2 separate regions of the Homo sapiens genome follow, and region 2 is linked to region 1. The links come from fine-mapping of genetic effects on gene expression. A gene starts in region 1. The other region holds a variant in brackets. All regions are shown on one strand. Distances are from middle to middle.

Evidence for each region. PIP is the estimated chance that this variant, and not a neighbour inherited with it, causes the effect.
Region 2: its variant is the best candidate, but not a certain one, in a credible set for the expression of PGGHG in fibroblasts (GTEx, PIP 0.55).

Annotation. Positions count from the first base shown.
Region 1 is chr11:287,142-292,141 of GRCh38, reverse strand. PGGHG (protein-glucosylgalactosylhydroxylysine glucosidase) reads right to left here and starts at 3,016. Exons shown (of 14, transcript NM_025092.5): 1 at 2,903-3,016; 2 at 2,067-2,338; 3 at 1,542-1,752; 4 at 1,029-1,464; 5 at 47-166. The coding sequence starts at 2,325. RefSeq lists silencers at 2,827-2,886, 2,897-3,426 and enhancers at 3,310-3,839, 3,840-4,369.
Region 2 is chr11:351,459-356,962 of GRCh38, reverse strand. No RefSeq gene overlaps it. Among named protein-coding and RNA genes, the nearest start is that of B4GALNT4, 15 kb to the left of the region's middle. RefSeq lists silencers at 519-838, 3,307-3,473 and enhancers at 134-1,086, 2,273-2,562, 2,068-2,644, 3,874-3,923. The variant G/C (reference allele first, on the strand shown) is at 2,207.

The DNA.
Region 1 (5,000 bases):
GCAGGCCCTGCAGGGCCCTACGGGCCAGTGCCCCAGGTCCCCTCACCTGGTAGCCCAGGTTCTGGGCGTTCTCCAGGGCCCCGTCCAGCGTGCGGATGCGGTACTCCAGGATGGCCCTGGCGGCTTCTGGGTGGAACATCAGGATACTCGGGAACATCCAGAGGTCCTGAGAGCACGGTCCCTCGTTCTAGCGCCGGACAGGCCGTCACTGCTCCCGCCCCTCCTGGCCACATTCCGCCCCGGCAGAGCTCCATCGCTGGCGTCTTCTGGGTTCCTCCTCGGCTGCCCACTCAGATCTGCAGGCCCTCCCCACCTGCCCACCCAGTTCTGTCTCCAGCCCAGACGCTCCTGGAGTTCTGGTGCTCAGCCCCACACTTCGCCTCCCCAGCCGGCGTTTGTGTGGCCTCAGAGGCTCCAGCCCGAATATGCGCATGGGCAGCTTCAGGCTGGCAGTGAATGACTCGGCCTCTGAGAGCCTCATCAAAGAAACGGCCACAGCGGCAGCACCGGGAGGCTCAGACAACGATGGAGCAGCCCCAGCACAGTCACTCTCGACACCTCCACGCCCAGCAGCCATCATGCCCCTCCGCTCTGTGCCCTCAGCGTCCCCGTCACCCCCGTCGGCCTCCAGTACCGGGCTCCACGCAGCCCCACAGGCCTTCCCAGTCCCCACAGGTCCCCGTCCTGATAGGTCCCTGGAGCTCCACTGGCCCTCAGGTAAACTCCAAGCGCCACACTACTGTCTACAAACGCTGGTGATCTGGACCTGCAGCCCTTCTCGCCTTGGTGGAGGCCCCTCCCCACGCTCTGGAAAGTGCCTCAGGCCCTCTCAGCTCTGGTCTCTGCACCTTCCATTCCCCTCACCTAGATCACTCCTCTACCAAACTCCTGCACACCTTCCAGGCCTCTTCCCTTTTGCCACAGTCCCTGTGCTTCCCCAACCATAGCCCTGGTCCCAGGGAGGGCAGAGACCGTGGACCTCCATGTGTCGCCTGCTGTGTGGCTGGTGCTGGGTGTACAGTGCTCACCTGGTCCCAGAAGACGTGGCCCCAGTAGCATTCCTCACGGCTCCCATTGGAGAGGCCCCCAGGACTGAGGCCATGGCAGATGTATCCTGGGGCCTTGGGCTGGGGCAGGGCACTGAGCAGGTAGTAGAGGGAGCCACGCAGGGCCTGGCGCAGCTGCAGGGGCCCCACCACGTCCAAGCCACATTCTACCCAGAGCTGGGCCCAGGCCTGTGCGTGAGCCGTATACAGAGCTCCCCTGGCCTGCAGCTGCAGGGCCTCAGTGAGGCAGGCCTGAGCCTCAGCCTGGCTGCCGCCCACTGCTGTCAGGAAGTCCCACGTCCTAGCCTCCTCACCTTCCCCAAGGGTCAGGTCTGGGGGTGCTGGTGTCCACAGCATGTGTACCTCTTGCTGTGGCCCCCCGGGCTGCTCAGGGGTGAGGGTGTGGCCATACAGGTACCTGTGAGAGCGTGGCCATGCCTCAGGGATGAGCTCCCTCCCTGGACTCCCTGGCTGCAAATCCAGCCCCCTCCTTACCGGGCTCCCTGGAAGTCAGGACCCTGATGCAGGTCCAGGTCTGGGCTTTCTGGGGAGAAGGCTGACCGCAGGAGCAGCGTGATGGGCCCGCTCCCCGGGGCCAGGCGGGCGATGGACACTCGGAAAGCCAGCACGTGGGGCAGCGTGCGATGCGCATAGATGCACTGGGAGGCCCGGAAGCGGGGGCCCTCCAGGGTGTGAAGAAAGGAGCCTGGGGAGGCAGAAGCGAAGGCAGGTGGGTTGCCAAGCTATGGCCTCTCTGGGGCAGGAGTGGACCACCCGACCGCTGCCTCTCCCCACAATGAGGCGGATCCCTCTGGGCCCTCGGCTGCTCGTTCCCGCTACAGCTGCACAGGAGGCCTCCAGGTGGAGGGAAGGGGGGACCCTGCGGGCCTCTGGGGCCTCCTGTCTTAGTGAGACTTCCTGTGTAAACTCAGGAGGTGCTGGTGGGATTCGATGCTGTGGTTGCCCCACCGACCTGGAACAATGCCTGGGGCAGGGGTGAGGCAGGCCAGGTGGCGCTACCTGTGTTGGTGTCCAGGGCGAAGGTCTCGGTCAGCTGCTCCCCCATCCCTGCAGGGGCCTCCAGCCGGACGTTGAGGGGGCTGGGCAGCATGGCCCGGTGCGTGTCCCCGCCAGCCCCATTGTACACGCCGCTCACGTGCAGCGTGTCGTGAAACACTCGTGTGCCCAGGTATGCGTTGGTCACAGTGGCCAAGAGACGGGGGTCACTGGGCAGAGAGTGGGCAGCAAACGTGGTGGGGTCCTCGCCGGCGTCCTCCATGGAGCTGCTGGGCCTGAGCGGCCTGATGGGGTGTCAGGGGCCGCGGGACTGGCTGGGCCTCCCTCTTGAGACCGTCTGTAATCCCCTGAAGCCTCCCTCAGAACTGGGGGGAGTTGCGGAACCAGCTGGGCAGCCCCGATTTTCCTGAGGCCCCTCCTAGACGGGGCCTCGCAGGAAAGGAGCTCGACTCTCAGAGGGGCTCAGACCCCAAAGGTTGATCTCCAGGAACCCAGCTGAGCCCCTGAGTGTGTCTCTCCCTCCTGCTACCTTAGAATTCCAGTCCTAACCCTGCTTTCCAAACGCACCCCCCACAACCCCGGTCTTGCCCCCACCCTCTGTGGTCGGGACCTGCGTCTGTTGGTGGCACGTGGGGGCGGGCGTGTGTGGAGGGTGGGGGGAGCGCTGGGCGGGATGGGGGAGGGAGTCCGGGGCTGCCGGGGCGCCGGGCGGGTGGGGGTCTCGGGGGTGTAGGCGGCTGGGGCAGGCGCGGGTGGGGGAGGGAGGATGGGGCGACCGGGGGCTGGGGGGACGGGCCGGGGCGGCCGGGAGCTGCGGGGCGGGGGCCTCTGGGACTCACCGCAGCCCCACCCGGTCGCCGGGCGCCAGCGTGGGAACCTGTGTCCCTCTGCTCCACGCCAGGGCCGGGAGGAAGGAGGAGCCGCCCGGCTGCCGCGCCACCAGGAAGGTCCGCGGTCCCCGCCCCGAGGGCCCGGGCGGTCGCTGGGAGGCGGGGGCGGTCCCTGGGCGGCGGGGGCGGTCGCTGGGCCGGGCCCGGGGGCGGGACGTGGACTCGCGGCCGCGGCCCCGGCTCCCCTCGGTCCCCGCTGGCAGCGGCCGCGTGGGTCGCGTCCGGGGGCCTGGCGTTCCCTGCACGAAGCGCCCTGAGTGAGCAAAGCTCGAGCCTGGACCCCGAGCTGCGTCCCGGGGCGGCTGTGGGTGGGGCCCGCGGGCCGGGGGTTCCCTCCCGCGCCTCCTCCCTCCGCCCGCGCCCCCGGCCGCCTCCACCTGGGTCCTCGCCTCGCTGTCGCCCGAGGGCTCGGGGGCGCTCCGAGGCCAGCGAGACTCCAGCCCCAGCCGGCGCCCGGGTTCTCGACACCGTCCGGAGAAAGAACTCGGGGTCGGGTCAGAAGGAAGCGAGAGGCTGGAAGCGAAGCGAAGGCACAGACCCGCCGCGCTCGGCGGAGCTTGGGTTTCCTCCCTGGGGGGCGGAATGATCTTTAGGGATTCTGGAAACGAAGGGGACTTCAGGGAACCCCGGCCCCCGCCGCGCCTGCCCCTTCTCCCTTATTGGGCGTTTTGCCGGGAAGGCTCATGGACGTCTCACTCGCACGGGTGTTTGGCCGTTTTCTCGCTCTCGTTTTGGGTTTTCTGTTAAACTGCGGTCCCTTTGCCTCGGTCCTGGTGCAGCTGCTGCTTGGGTTTTCCATCCTCCTGAGACCACCGGTGCAATTCCCAATTCCCATCTCAACGCCACCGCCCACCCGGACGCCGCTGGGCTCAGCCCTGGGCCCGCTCGTCCCGGTATCTCACGCTCCCTGACCCGGCCTCAATGTCCTGACCACTCGGTGCAGCCGGAGACGCCGGGGTCCAGCACGTGCTCGGAAGCCTGCTGCTCCCACAGGGTCCCCAGCACAGGTGAGGACGACTCCGCCCGTCCCGCTGCCCAGGCCGTGAGCCCCGGTTTCTCTCTGTCACCCACACAGCATCCAACCTATGGACAGGTCCTGTGGCTCCACCTCCAACACGCCGTGGGCCCACACCTCCTCCTGGAGTGGCTCAGTCGCTCCCAACTTACGCCTTTGTTGAGAACAGAACCCCCACAACATTTAAGGCAGGCCCTGCACTCTGCCCAGAAGGCAGCCATGGCGCCCAACTCACGGAGGACGATCCAAAAGCGCTCCTCACGCAAGCTCCACCCGGCGCAAACCCCCTCCTGCAACTGCCTGGGTTCCCTGACCTCATCTCCTCCCCCTCCCCTACTCCGCTGCGGCTACCTGGCTTCCTTGCTGCTTCTGGAACTTTCCAAGCACGCAAGCTCCACCCGCAAACCCCCTCCTGCACCTGCCTTGGTTCCCTGACCTCATCTCCTCCCCGTCCCCTACTCCGCTGCGGCTACCTGGCTTCCTTGCTGCTTCTGGAACTTTCCAAGCACGCAAGCTCCACCCGCAAACCCCCTCCTGCACCTTCCTGGGTTCCCTGACCTCATCTCCTCCCCCTCCCCTACTCCGCTGCGGCTACCTGGCTTCCTTGCTGCTTCTGGAACTTTCCAAGCACGCAAGCTCCACCCGCAAACCCCCTCCTGCACCTGCCTGGGTTCCCTGACCTCATCTCCTCCCCATCCCCTACTCCGCTGCGGCTACCTGGCTTCCTTGCTGCTTCTGGAGCTTTCCAAGCACGCAAGCTCCACCCGCAAACCCCTTCCTGCACCTGCCTGGGTTCCCTGACCTCATCTCCTCCCCCTCCCCTACTCCGCTGTCGCTACCTGGCTTCCTTGCTGCTTCTGGAGCTTTCCAAGCTCCCCGCCTGGCTTGCTCTGGCAGCATAATTGCCTGAAGCCCTTTTTCTCAAGACCTCTTTGGGGCTTGCCCCCTCACTCCTTCGGGTTTTCAAATGCCCAGTCGTCAGTTAGACTTCCTCAGACCCCCGTTTCATGCAACAGGAAACCCTGCGCTCCA
Region 2 (5,504 bases), 65 kb before region 1:
GTATGTGTGTGTGCTGTGTGTATGTGTGTGGTGTGTATGTATGTGCACTGTGCCTGTGTATGTGTGTGTGACATATGTATGTATGTGGTGGCTGTATATGTGTGTGCATGGTGCGTGTGTGTGTGGTGTGTATGTGCATGGTGCATGTGTATATGTGTGGGGTGTGTCCGTGCATGATGCATGTATGTGCGTGGTGTGTATATGTGTGTGCATGGTGCATGCGTGTGTATGTATGTTTGTGGTGTGTATGTGTGTGCATGGTGCATGTGTTTGTGGTGTGTGTGCATGTTGCATGTGTGTATGTGTGTCACGTGTGTATGTGGTTTGTGTATATTTGTGTGCACGGTGCTTGTGTGGTGTGTGTGTATGTCCATGGTGTGTGTGTGATGTGTGTATGTGTGTGGTGTGTGTATGTATGTGCATGGTATGTGTGTGACATGTATATATGTGGTGTGTGTATATGTGTGTGCATGGTACGTGTGTGTGGGGTGTGTATGTGCATGGTGTGTGTGCCCCGCCCCCCAGGCGCTTTCTCCGTTTCCCCGAAGTGACGACCGCACCTCGGCCGGAAGCGGGGAGGGGCCGCCTCGTGGGAGCGCGGACGGGCAGAGCCCTTTGTGTTCGGGACGGGGCGGGACGCGCTGGGTGCGGGGAGACCCCCTGCGCCCCGGCCCTGCTGTGGAGGAAGGGGCTCTAGACGGGGCGGGGCGCTCCTCCGCGTGCTGCGTGTCTGGGGGCCCGAAACGCAGACCCGCCCCCCCACCGTTGGAACGAGCCCCCCCACCGTTGGAACGCGCCGCCCCCCCCTTCCCCCGCTCCAGGCGGCTCCCTGGAGAGCAGCTGGGAAACGCCCCACCCCCATCCATTCCTGGCCGCGCTTTCAGGGCTGTTTTCCTCGGGCTGGGAAACGCCCCGCCCCGTTCCATTCCCGGCCGTCGGTTCGGGAATGTTTTCCTGGCGCACAGCCCTGGGAGGCCTCCCGGGCGCCGAGGGCAGCGCTGGTCACCGTCCCGCGTGGCAGCCAGTGTCTGGGGGCAGAGTGTCCAGGAAGCTGCGCCCCCGGGCTCGTGTCCTGCCGCCACTCACTGCGTGGCACGGGTCCCCGGGCCCCTCCAGGCCTTCTGCGGGAGCTGGGGCTTGGGAAGCCGCCGCAGAAGCGGTTCCCTTGGCCACCTCCCTGCCTGAGAAGTCAACCGTCCTTGCCTCTGACCCAGGGGCTCTGTCTTCTGTTGGCCTCCGGGGATCTGTGGCCGGTTCACCCCCTAGCTGGCGAAGCTAGGCGTTTGAACCAGAGCAATTCCATCTTGATTGGGAGCTGGGTAAAATGAGGCTGAAATCCACTGGGCAGCATTTCCAGACGGTGGGAGCTCAGACCCTGCCCGTTTGTGCACAGGAAGCACCCACCGGGCTCCTGAAGTCCACGCGAGCTCCCTTCCCTGAGCTCCAGGCCAAGCTTGGAGTTCCCTCCGCCCCTTAGACCTCAGGCCGACTCGGCTTCCAGAATGCCATCCTCCCTGGACTGCAGTTAAATTAACTTCCTGTGTTCTGAGCCATCTGTTCCCTTCCTACCCTGTTTTCCACCCCAAATTGTTCTTAACCCCATTATTCAGGGCATGTGATAGTGTGGGCGGAGGATTACCCAGGTGCGGAGGCAAAAGACTGAAGGCACATGGCGGGCGCCTGTAGTCCCAGCTACTCGGGAAGCTGAGGCAGGAGAATGGGGTGAACCTGGGAGGCGGAGCTTGCAGTGAGCCCGGATGCGCCACTGCACTCCAGCCTGGGCGACAGAGCGAGACTCTGTCTCAAAAAAAAAAAAAAAAAAAAAAAAAAAAAAAAAGACAAGGCACAAACTTTCAGTATAATAAAGAGAATAAGAATAGTTATAATACAAATTAGAGATGATCATGGACATATCAATCATTAGTATAAACATTATTAATCATTAGCTTTTATCGTGGACATTATCAATCAGTATAAACATTATTAGTCATTAGCTTTTAATATTTCTCTTTGTGGCATTACTAATATAACCTAGGAATAACCGGCGGGTATAGGGTCAGGTGCTGAAGGGACGTTGTGAGAAGTGACCTAGAAGGCAAGAGGTGAGCCCTCTGTCACACCAACATAAGGGCCGCTTGAGGGCTCCTTGGTTAAGCGGTAACGCCAGTGCCTGGGAAGGCACCCGTTACTTAGCCGACCGTGAAAG[G/C]GAGTCTTCTTTCCTTGGAGGAGTCAGGGAACACTCTGCTCCACCAGCTTCTTGTGGGAGGCTGGATATTCTCCAGGCCTGGCCCGCAGTCATCCGGAGGCCTAACCCCCTCCCTGTGGTGCTTGAATGATCACACTCCTTGTCCACTTTCATGCTCCTCCCTTACTCCTGGTTCCTCTTTGAAGTTCTTAGAAGATAGCGGTAGAAGAAATAAAGTCTTTGATCTTTCTTTCTTTCTTTTTTTTTTTCTTTTTTTTTGAGACAGAGTCTTGCTCTGTCGCCCAGGCTGGAGTGCAGTGGTGCGATCTCGGCTCACTGCAAGCTCCGCCTCCTGGGTTCACACCATTCTCCTGCCTCAGCCTCCCAAATAGCTGGGACTACAGGCGCCTGCCACCATGCGTGGCTAATTTTTTGTATTTTTAGTAGAGACAGGGTTTCACCATGTTGGCCAGGCTGGTCTTGGCCACGTGACCTCAACTGATCTGCCTGCCTCGGCTTCCCAAAGTGCTGGGATTACAGGCGTGAGCCACTGCGCCCGGCCGTCTTTGATCTTTCTTAAAAGTGCATAGAAGAAAACGCTGACGTATGCTGCCTTCCCTCTCTGCTCCCGCTACCTGTAAGGGAAGGGCCCCTGTCCTATGGTCACATGACTTGCTTGACCTTATCAATCACTTGGACAACTCACCGTTCTTACCCTGCCCCCTTGTCTTGTATGCAATCAATATCAGCGTGCCCAGCCATTCGGGGCCACTACCGGTCTCCGCATCTTGGTGGTAGTGGTTCCCCGGGCACAGCTGTTTTCTCTCTATCTCTTTGTCTTGTGTATTTATTTCTTCCGGTCTCTCGTCTCCACACACGGGGAGAACACCCGCCAAGCCCCGTAGGGCTGGACCCTCCATGATAGAAGTCATGCTTTTAATCAAATGCAACCAATTCAGAATGGCAAATTAGGATATATACCCTTTCCCAAATCCAGTATCCCAGGAGAAATTACGGTACGGTAATTAATCCCCCTCCTCCCGCCAAGCTAAACCTCAGAGAAGTTGAAGTTCTAAAGTTCAAGTCCAAAAATACTGGGAAGGGAAAAACAAACAAAAAAACCGAGGAAACAAACATCAGGGAAAAACCCAGAACCTCGTCATGAAAATAGTGTCCTGTCGCTCTGTTTCTGATTTGCAGCTCACAGCTCGTGTTTCACCCCAGCCTCTGGGGCCGGCTCTGTGCCTGGCCTGAGGCCGATTCACTGGCTCAGTCCACAGAGTTGGGCCTGGCTTCCTGCCCTGGAAACCAGTCGAAGGTTCTCCATAGGAACCTGCCGGGCAGACACAGGGATTTGCTGGTTCTCCAGCAGTGAGTCTGAGATGAAACTGGTGTCTATTCGCAGTCTGATACTTTGCTTTAACAAAAAAACAAAAAGCCAGAAAAACAAAAACAAAACTGGGCTTTGATTTGTTTAGAAAGAGATCTTTCTGAGCGTCTTCTGCTCTCATGGCCTGGGTGCCGCCCACCAATAGCAGCTCGGGCTGGGCCTTCGTTTCCCAGCTGGGGGGACCTTTCAGCCCCTCTAGAGGTAAAGTAACACACCCAAAGTCTCTCTTCTTTAAAAAGGGCTCAGAGTCACTGGGTGAATATGAATTTCATATCATTACCTGTTGAGGTTGCCCAGGTTCTTGGTTTCTTGAACAAAGAACTGGACAAAACCCACAAAGGAAGGAAGGAATGAAGAGATTTACTGAAAAGGAAAGTACACGCCACAGCGTGGGAGCGGCCGGAGCATGGGGCTCAAGGGCCCCATTACAGAATTTTGGGGAGTTTAAATACCTTCTAGAGGATTCCGTTGGTTACTTGGTGTACGCCCTCTGTAAATGGAGAGGATGAAGTAAAGTTACAAAGTCATTTACTGGGTGCAGGCCCTATGGAGAGGATATTTCCTGTCATAGCTGAGGTGTGAATCGGTCTTATGTTCCCTGTCTCCAGGCCTTGTTTTCCTGCCTCACTAGCACCAGGCACACAGTCACACAAGGTGGAAAATGGACTCCGTGTGCCTCCAAGGTGAACACCCTGGCTCTCAGGAGCAGAGACCTAGTGGCATCCCAGGGAGAGTGGAGAGACAGGGAGAGAAATGTTCTGGCTGGTCCAGAGGGCGAAACAGCAGAGACTGTTCTGTCAGAGGCATGTGAACCAGAGCAACTCCATCTTGATTAGGAGCTGGGTAAGATGAGGCTGAGACTTGCTGGGCTGCATCCCCGGACGGTTAAGGCATTCTAAGTCACAGGATGACATAGGAGGTCGGCAATAGCTACAGGTCATAAAGACCTTGCTGATAAAACAGTTTGGAGTAAAGAAGCCGGACAAAGCCCTCCAAAACCAAGATGGTGTCGAGAGTGACCTCTGGTCGTCCTCAGCGCTACACTCCCACCAAGGTCCTGACAGTTTACAGATCCATGGCAAGGTCAGGAAGTTTCTCTACATGGTCTAAAAGGGGAGGCATGAATTATCCACCCCTCGTTTAGCATATCATCAAGAAATAACCGTAAAAATGGGCAGCCCGCAGCTCTCGGGGCCGCTCTGTCTATGGAGTAGCCATTCTTGATTCCTTTACTTTCCTAATAAACTAACTTGCTTTCTTTTTTTTTTTTTTGAGACGGAGTCTCGCTGTCGCCCAGGCTGGAGTGCAGTGTCGCGATCTCGGCTCACTGCAGGCTCCGCCCCCCGGGGTTCATGCCATTCTCCTGCCTCAGCCTCCCGCGTAGCTGGGACTACAGGCGCCCGCCACCACGCCCAGCTAATTTTTTTTTTTTTGTATTTTTAGTAGAGACGGGGTTTCACCGTGTTAGCCAGGATGGTCTCGATCTCCTGACCTCGTGATCCGCCCGCCTTGGCCTCCCAAAGTGGTGGGATTACAGGCGTGAGCCACTGCGCCCGGCCAACTTGCTTTCACTTTATGGACTCCCCCTGATTTCTTTCTTGCATGAGATCCAGGAACCCTCTCTCGGGGTCTGGATCGGGACCCCTTTCCGGTAACATCTTTCTGGCGACCACAGAAGAAAAACTGCAGACTCAAAACCTAGCGTTGGGTAGGTGACATATCTCTGGTGACCTCAGGAGGGGCTCCAGTGCGGAAACCCCCGACCTAAAGGCTAACTTTGGGTAAGTAGTGGGGTCCGGTAACATCTTTCTGGCAAACCCTGAAGGGACAATACTGAGGAGGAGCCCCCGACCCAAAGGAAATAGACTCGGCCCTGACTGGACGACGCTGGGTAAGTGGTGGGGTAGCCGGCGAAGGATGGGATTGGGT